2 linked regions of the Homo sapiens genome follow. The protein of the gene in region 2 purifies or fractionates together with the protein of the main gene of each other region. This does not show direct contact. Each region holds a gene or a part of one and is shown on either strand. Other genes may lie near its edges.

What was found. The genes of interacting proteins can lie anywhere in the genome.
Region 1: the proteins of TPH1 (region 2) and RFWD3 purify together in Homo sapiens (affinity purification with mass spectrometry; 2 studies listed by BioGRID and IntAct, with this or other methods). This does not show direct contact.

What each region holds. Positions count from the first base shown.
Region 1 is NC_000016.10:74,660,266-74,664,019, forward strand, and holds part of RFWD3 (E3 ubiquitin-protein ligase RFWD3), read right to left. Parts: exon of another isoform or gene 1,691-3,754; intron 1,189-1,690; exon of another isoform or gene 1,187-1,188; 5' UTR 1,185-1,186; coding exon 667-1,184; intron 1-666. UniProt on the Homo sapiens protein: E3 ubiquitin-protein ligase required for the repair of DNA interstrand cross-links (ICL) in response to DNA damage. Plays a key role in RPA-mediated DNA damage signaling and repair.
Region 2 is NC_000011.10:18,039,525-18,043,278, forward strand, and holds part of TPH1 (tryptophan 5-hydroxylase 1), read right to left. Parts: intron 1,265-3,754; 5' UTR 1,239-1,264; coding exon 1,122-1,238; intron 1-1,121. UniProt on the Homo sapiens protein: Oxidizes L-tryptophan to 5-hydroxy-l-tryptophan in the rate-determining step of serotonin biosynthesis.

The sequences.
Region 1 (3,754 bases), on a different chromosome or scaffold from region 2:
TCTCAAAACAAAACAAAACCAAAAACAGACAGGTTTAATTAGTTAGGTGTGGTGGCACGCGCCTGTAATGCCAGGTACTGGGGAAGCTGAGGCAGGAGAATCGCTTGAATCTGGGAGATGGAGGTTGCAGTGAGCAAAGATTGTGCCACGGGAATCCAGCCTGGACGACAGAGTGAGACGCTGTCTCAAAAACAAAAACAAAAAACCAAAAAACGGACAGGGTATAGGCAATTGTTATTCTTCATAATAACCCTGTCAAGACTTGACAGCTAAGCCCTTCAAGAGGCAAGTTCAAACCAAGACTATGAAAGAAAATTAATTAATTGTGCCCCCAGGTGGAATGCCAGTGAATAATGAATTTGGGTGAGTAGAGACTTGCAAGTGAAGAAAGAATTTTTGGTGTACAAGACACAATCTGAACAACAGCCAATCTCTACAGAGATTGCCAACAAACTACCACCTAGTTTTCAAGGCACAACAGTTTAACTTATCCCTTCATTACTTTGTGAAGTAAGGCAAGCACTTTTATTTCCACCTATGAGGAACTGGGGGTCAGAAGTTACCTGACTTGCCAAAAGTCACACTGTCAGTCCTTGAATGGCAGAGCCTCAGTTTCATAATTTCTAGTACAGCAATGATCACAGACTTATCCATATATTTATTTACCTGGCACTGTCTGTCCTCTGAGACCCTCCGGCTCTTGCCCTCCGTGAAGCAGATACCCTCCTTCTTGTTCTCATTGGCCCTACACTGTGGTTTGAAGATGAAGGTCTCAGGAATTCCAGCATGCCATGAAGTCTCTGCAGTCCGCTGATGAAGTTGGTCATTGAATGCAACGAAGATGCTGGGATGGTGTGATTACCATCAGATCCCTGCCTATGTTGTTCTGAAGTTCTTGGATTGATGTTCTCCACAGTGTCTTCTCCCAAGACCTCCACTTCTGTCAGGTCAACAGACAGTTGCGGAGCAGGCTGGAGCAGGGGTGGTGTCGCTTGGCTGCTGATCACCTCAGCAGGAGCTGGCTGGAGGATGGATGGTACCCCCTGGCTGCTGACCACATCAGCAGGAACAGGCTGGAGGAGGGCTGGTCCCCCTTGGCTGCTGGCCATGCCAGCAGGAGCTGGCTGTTGTTCGGCATGATTTAACTGCACCTGAACATCATATTCCATTGCTTCATGAGCCATCACTAGAGAAACAGTATTTGTAAAAAGTATTAATAAAATAGATAAAACATGCTATGTAGGTGACAGAATCATATTTAATCTTTCTGATTTTATGTTTAATATCATTCTTAGCAAGACTGAGAAGCTTCAAGAGAAGATTTTAACTACTTAAGTCAGAAGTGTTTGGTAATGGACTTTCCTCTCTATAACAAGCATTTATAACCAGTTTTCCGGTTTGCCCTTAGAAAACATGAAGTCCTGTGATCATAGTAGTATCTTCCAAAATAGAAAGATCTATAAACCAAGGAGATTAAACTACTGGGTCTAAAAGTAATCTCTCAGACACTTTGCAGTTCTCTCAAGCTGAATATGGACATTCACCAAAATCAAATGCATATAATGCAGTATCTAATTTTAGCAGGCAATATTAATCTTTCACAGCATCAACAGTTACAAGGGATAAATAGAGAAAGGACATTTTTTACACTTGCAAAATTAACTGTTACTAACTCAAAATGGAAACTTACCTAATGTTTCCAAAAAGGCTGAGCAAACTTTATCCTATCCCTTTCATTATTTTTGTTTTCCATCTCTAATTCCATCATGTTAGCGTATTCAACAAATATTTATTAAGCACCTATGTTCTTTTCATGTTTCCTATCTTTAATTCCATTGTATCAGTTTGAAAACTACCACCTAGTTTTTAAACTAAAAAAAAAAATTTTTTTTTGTTATATAGATGAAGGCTTCCTATGTTGCCCAAACTGGTCTTGAATGCCTGGCCTTACCTCCTCATGCATCAGGACAACAGGACTGAGCCACTGTGCCTCCCTACCACCTAGTTTTTAAAGTACATCAGTATAACTTATCCCCTTAATTACTTTGTGAAGTAAGGCACGTGCTTTTATTTTCATCTGACTTATGAGGAAATGGGGGTTCAACTAATAGTTATTAAGCACCTGTTATGCAGACAAGACACCCTAGAGGCAAAAACAGATAAGACCCCATGTATCAGAGTTTAGATTCTAGCAAGTAAGATGTCAATAAACAAATACATGAAAAAAATTATAGATTATGATGTTTGGGGTTGAGGAGACAAAGAGGACCAACTAAGACACAATTGTGAGGGAAGTACTCTTTTAAAGAGTGAAAATTGGGCTGAGGCATGAAGGATTAAAAGCAGCTGGCTATGCAAAGAGCCAAGAAGAGTCTCAGAAGGAAATCAGTGCATAGGTCCCTGATGAGCATGGGTTTCACTGATGAACAGGACACCATTATTAAAGGGCCTATGGGCCTTGGTAAGGAGTTTCTTCTATGTTAGGAATGCACTGTAGGGGTGCAAGAGCATAAGCTAGGTGACCAGTGTAGAGGCTATTGTGGGAGTCCAGACCAGAGGTCAGAGAGACCTAGGCAAGAGTGGTAGCAGTGGAGATGAAAACAAACAGACAGCTTTAAGAATCTTCAGAATGGTCATGCTTCTTTTTTTTTTTTTTTGAGATGGAGTCTCGCTCTGTTGCCCAGGCTGGAGTGCAGTGGCGCGATCTCGGCTCACTGCAAGCTCCGCCTCCCGGGTTCACGCCATTCTCCTGCCTCAGCCTCCCGAGTAGCTGGGATTACAGGTGCCTGCCACCACGCCTGGCTAATTTTTTGTATTTTTAGTACAGCCGGGGTTTCACTGTGTTAGCCAGGATGGTCTCGATCCCCTGACCTGGTGATCTGCCAGCCTCAGCCTCCCAAAGTGCTCGGATTATAGGCATGAGCCACCGCGCCCGGCCAATACTCATGTTTCTTAAAATCATCAAAGCAGATTAAACCACCTGAGGAACAGAATGACAGAAGAGGGCTGAAGACTAAAGTCAGAGACACTACTGTTAAAAGTACAACAGAGTAAAAGAAGCCAGTTAAGGAAGATTATAAAGTAGGAGGAAACATGGGAATGTGGTGTCTTGGAAAAACAATGTTTCAAGGAAGGAACAATTGAGTGTCAAGTGCTACTGGGGGGAAGAACGGCCGCTAGATTTGGCAACATGAGGATGACAGGTGACCTAAAAAAGCAGTTTCCCTGAAGTGGTGGGGTCAGAGGCCAGACTGGTGCAGGCTGAATAAATGGAAGGAATTCTAATAAACATAGTGGACGAAGTACATATATGTATCTTTCTCTCTCCACTCCAGTCATTCCTAAAACCCACGAACATGACCCCCACAACCTGAGACATTTTTTTAAGAAAGGATAAATTAACCAGGACGACACAAATGCAAACAGGGTATGATATGCAAACCAGTTTTTTAAGGCCATAAAGGAGAAACTGATGATTGATGACTGCTTAGCAGAGCCAAAAGATAAAACTCAAAGCCTGCAAAGGGCACAGTGGTTGGGGTGAGGTGTGTTATTGAGAAGCAAGCTGATTCCCACTAAAGGGACTGTAAAAACCAGGTACCACAAAAGGCAATATTGAAAGATGGCGCTAAAAGAGAAGGGCTGGTTAAAAGCCAGTAAAGCAGTTAGCTTGACTCCTACTCAAACACCAGCCAGCTAAAACAAAACACAGAACAAAGCCCTTCTCCCCCTATGCACGAGAAAACTGGAGGTT
Region 2 (3,754 bases):
TTTAGTTCCTATAAACAATAAATCTTTGTGTGTCCCTGAGCCCTTAAACTCAGTTAGGTCCCCCAAGTTCAATGCTGTCAGAATATCTGGTATTTCTGTTTCATGTCACTTTACACATAGTGATTATTCACTTACTGCAGTTGTTTGTTTAATGTTGCCTTCCCCACTAGATTACATACTCTGTGAGGACAGGCACTGTGTTTACTTTGTCCAGCTCCACATCCTTAGTGTCTGGTGTGGTACCTGACACATAGTAAGGACTCAATAAATATTCGTGTTCTGCCTGACTGATCCATATTTTTAAGACAGATTTATGAAATTAGAATTATGGGTCAAAAATATGAACATTTTAAGGCTCATAATACATATTACCAGATAGTTTCCCTACATGGTACACAAATTTATCCTTGTGCCAAAGGTGCATTGGAGGGTAATGTACCTCCAATGCAATGAAGTTCTGACAATAGGAGACACTGTCATTATAGAATCTTTGCTACATGAAAATAATATCATTAAATATACTATGACTATATCATTAAATCTCAAGTATATAATTAATAATATATGATTATATATTGATAAAATTTTAATATTTTATTAAAATAAAATTAAAATTTGCTTCTCTAAAATCTATAAAGTGAATCTTTTCTCCCCCATTTCTCGAAGTAGCTATTTGTATCTCCTCTTCTGTAAATTGTTTGTATCCCTTGTTAGAATTCAGCACTATTTTAGAAATGTAAGTTCTTAACAAATGTTTGTACTCCATCTCTGAAGAGTTTACAATAATTTATATATATAATATATAAAAATTATATATTTATATATTTTATCTATATATAAATATAGATATATATATAGAGAGAAAATCTCACTCTGATACCTAGGCTAGAGTGCAGTGGTGTGATCATAGCTCACTCACTGTAACCCTGGACTCCCGGACTGAAGCAATCCTCCCACCCCAGCCTCCCAGGTAGCTGGAACTACAGGAGTCCACCACCACACCCAGCTAAATTTGTTTTTTTTTAAGAGATAGGGTCTTGCTATGTTGCCCTATATTTTAAATATAGTTTTAGAGATTCATTTCTAGAAGAATTCTGTGCAAAAATACAGAAAATGCTTACCTGAAAGATTTTCAGGGCTTTTATAAGTCCTCCAACTTCATTCTTTAAGGAAAAAATGAGACTTGCTCTTCCCCTTTCTAAGGAATGGTCTTTGTTCTCCTTATTGTCTTCAATCATGATGAATTTGGAGTAATTCTCTAAAACTAAAGTATGAAAACAAAGACTACGGGCTAAAAAAGAAGTTGCACAATGCAGACAATATTTGATAACTAAGGGCTCATTTACTTCTAGGAGCTTCAGTTTCTTAACCTTTTATAAAACCTGGATATGCAGATAAGCTTTGCAAGAATCTAGTGAGACCAAAATAAGATACAACTTTGCCTGACACCTGCCTAGAATAGAATACATGTTAGTAGTTCCCTTTTGTTTTTTTTCTAAACCAATCGCTCTTTTAGGGCATGACTGAAGCCTGCTGGCTTCTTGCAGTCTTCCCAACTATTGTAGCCTAAACTAGTCAGGAAGGCCTACCTCCTCCCCACCTTGCCCACAATCTTAGCACTTCATTATACCAGGTCTCAAATGGTTTCCCCAAATGTTCTATTCGAACATATCTCACCTTCTAACAAGGCAGCAAGCTCCTCCAGAGTGGGGACAAGGCTTTCTATTTATTTTGTAAACTAAAGGCCTGGCCAGCTCTAGATACATATGCACTAGATGGATAACTGCTAGCCAGGAGAATTCTAGTTCTGCTTCTCAGAAGATGAACCAGAGATCTACTTTGGTATCTTCTTAACCACCTATTTACACTGCAAAACAGTGTAAGGAAATATGTGGAATGTGAAGTCAGACATATCTAATCATTGGCCTCATGTTTATCAGTGTATGACCTCGGGCATGCTACTTAACCTTTCTAATATAAAACTAAGTTACCAAACAGCTACCAGAACTCATAACATCCAAAATTCTCACTCGTTTTAAAACATCATAACATGGCGTGCTATTCTGAGATTTTCCTCACGGAAGAAACTAGGATATTTCAGGTACCAAGAAGAGTTAGAGATACATAATTCAAAATTTAACTAACATTTATGAATTCATTGGGTTCAAGTTTCCAAAACTACCAAGATTTTTAAATTATGCCAAATTAGTCTCTAGAACTAAAAACAATTTCTATTTCAAATGCTATAAAACTAAATGGCCAGTTAAACTGAATAATTATGTGGATTTTTCTTTGATTCAAATAATTACTAATGGTAAAACGAATAAAATTTCAACCCAAGCGCATTCACATGTGTGAAGCACCACAGTCAAAGTTAGGGCAGTAAAAATTTAAAAACAAGACAACTTGCCTCCAAATAATTCACACACTTGTTCATGGGGAAGGAGAAAATGGAAGACAGACTTCTCAATAAGTACAAATAAGCAGAAAAGAAGGGACACTGAGATCCCAGCCATGACACCCAAGGAGTACACTCAACCACCCCTCACCTTCCCACCACCCCACCCCTTTGATCAATATCCCATGTGCTTCTAAAGATGACTGAATATAGCTTCTAGCCCATCCATGAGTCTCTGCTGAGAAAGGATTTATGGATGAGAAGCAGGAGATCTTAAGAGATTTTCCACTTCAAAGGAAGTGACCATTTCTTAAGGTAAACTTAAGTATACACAGAAAATTCCAAATTGGTGGCTCTGGGGCTAAAAATTCAGGGATGGCCTCAGATAAGCATTCTCAAAATGTTTTTAGGGATGTGAAAACTTTCAGAAACGTTTCTTACCCATTCAATTACCACTCAAAGATTGACTTTTCTTATCAAACACAGAGTATGGGCGACGTTGTCCTAAAGCGTGAAAATGTAAACAATAAAAGAGATGCAAAATAATATAACAAATTGCTAGTAATAAATCTTTCTGCAAATCCATCTAGGCAAGTTATAATCTTTATATGTATCAACCTCTTTATTTGCAAACTTGGAGGGAGGATAATTAACACCACTCTCATGATTATAAGGAGGATTAAACATATATAAACTTATGAGAATTAAATAGTTATAATTTACATAAAACTCTTAGAACAGTTGCTAACCTACACTAAGTACTCAATAAGTATTATCTCAAGTAATGGGGAATATGTCCCAAATTTTCCAGTTTTCAAAAAAAGAGAAAATGTTCAAGTAATGAAATAGACATTCTAAATACCTCTGGCTAAGAATTTTTCTTGCCCTAGGAATTAGGCATTTTACAAGATGGTTAACATATTTCTTACAATAGCAAACATGTGGAAAAGTTGCTTTATGATATAAAATGTCAGTATTGTTTTGTATCAAGGTGATTTCAGTTTCATTAATTTATTATAAAACCCCTAAAGTGTATTAAATTCCAAATCTCAAGAAAATAATTCAGCAGTTTTTTTGCAAACAAATAGACAAAGACCCCAAAGTAAAATGTACTGAGTTACCCTATAGTTACTGAGTCCTCATGTTTCCTGATACCATCACCATGACATGCAGAAGGAAGAGGATTCTGCAAATATAAGCTATTTCCTGGCCAACCACTAGCTTCATCATGTAAATCAGCTTTAAGAACTGGGAGCAAGGATCAGAGAACAGTAAAGAAAAGTTACCACTGATTTTTTCCAGTCAGTGGTAACACTAACAGAATTCTAGATCTCCTGATAATTTGTCTTTCAACAA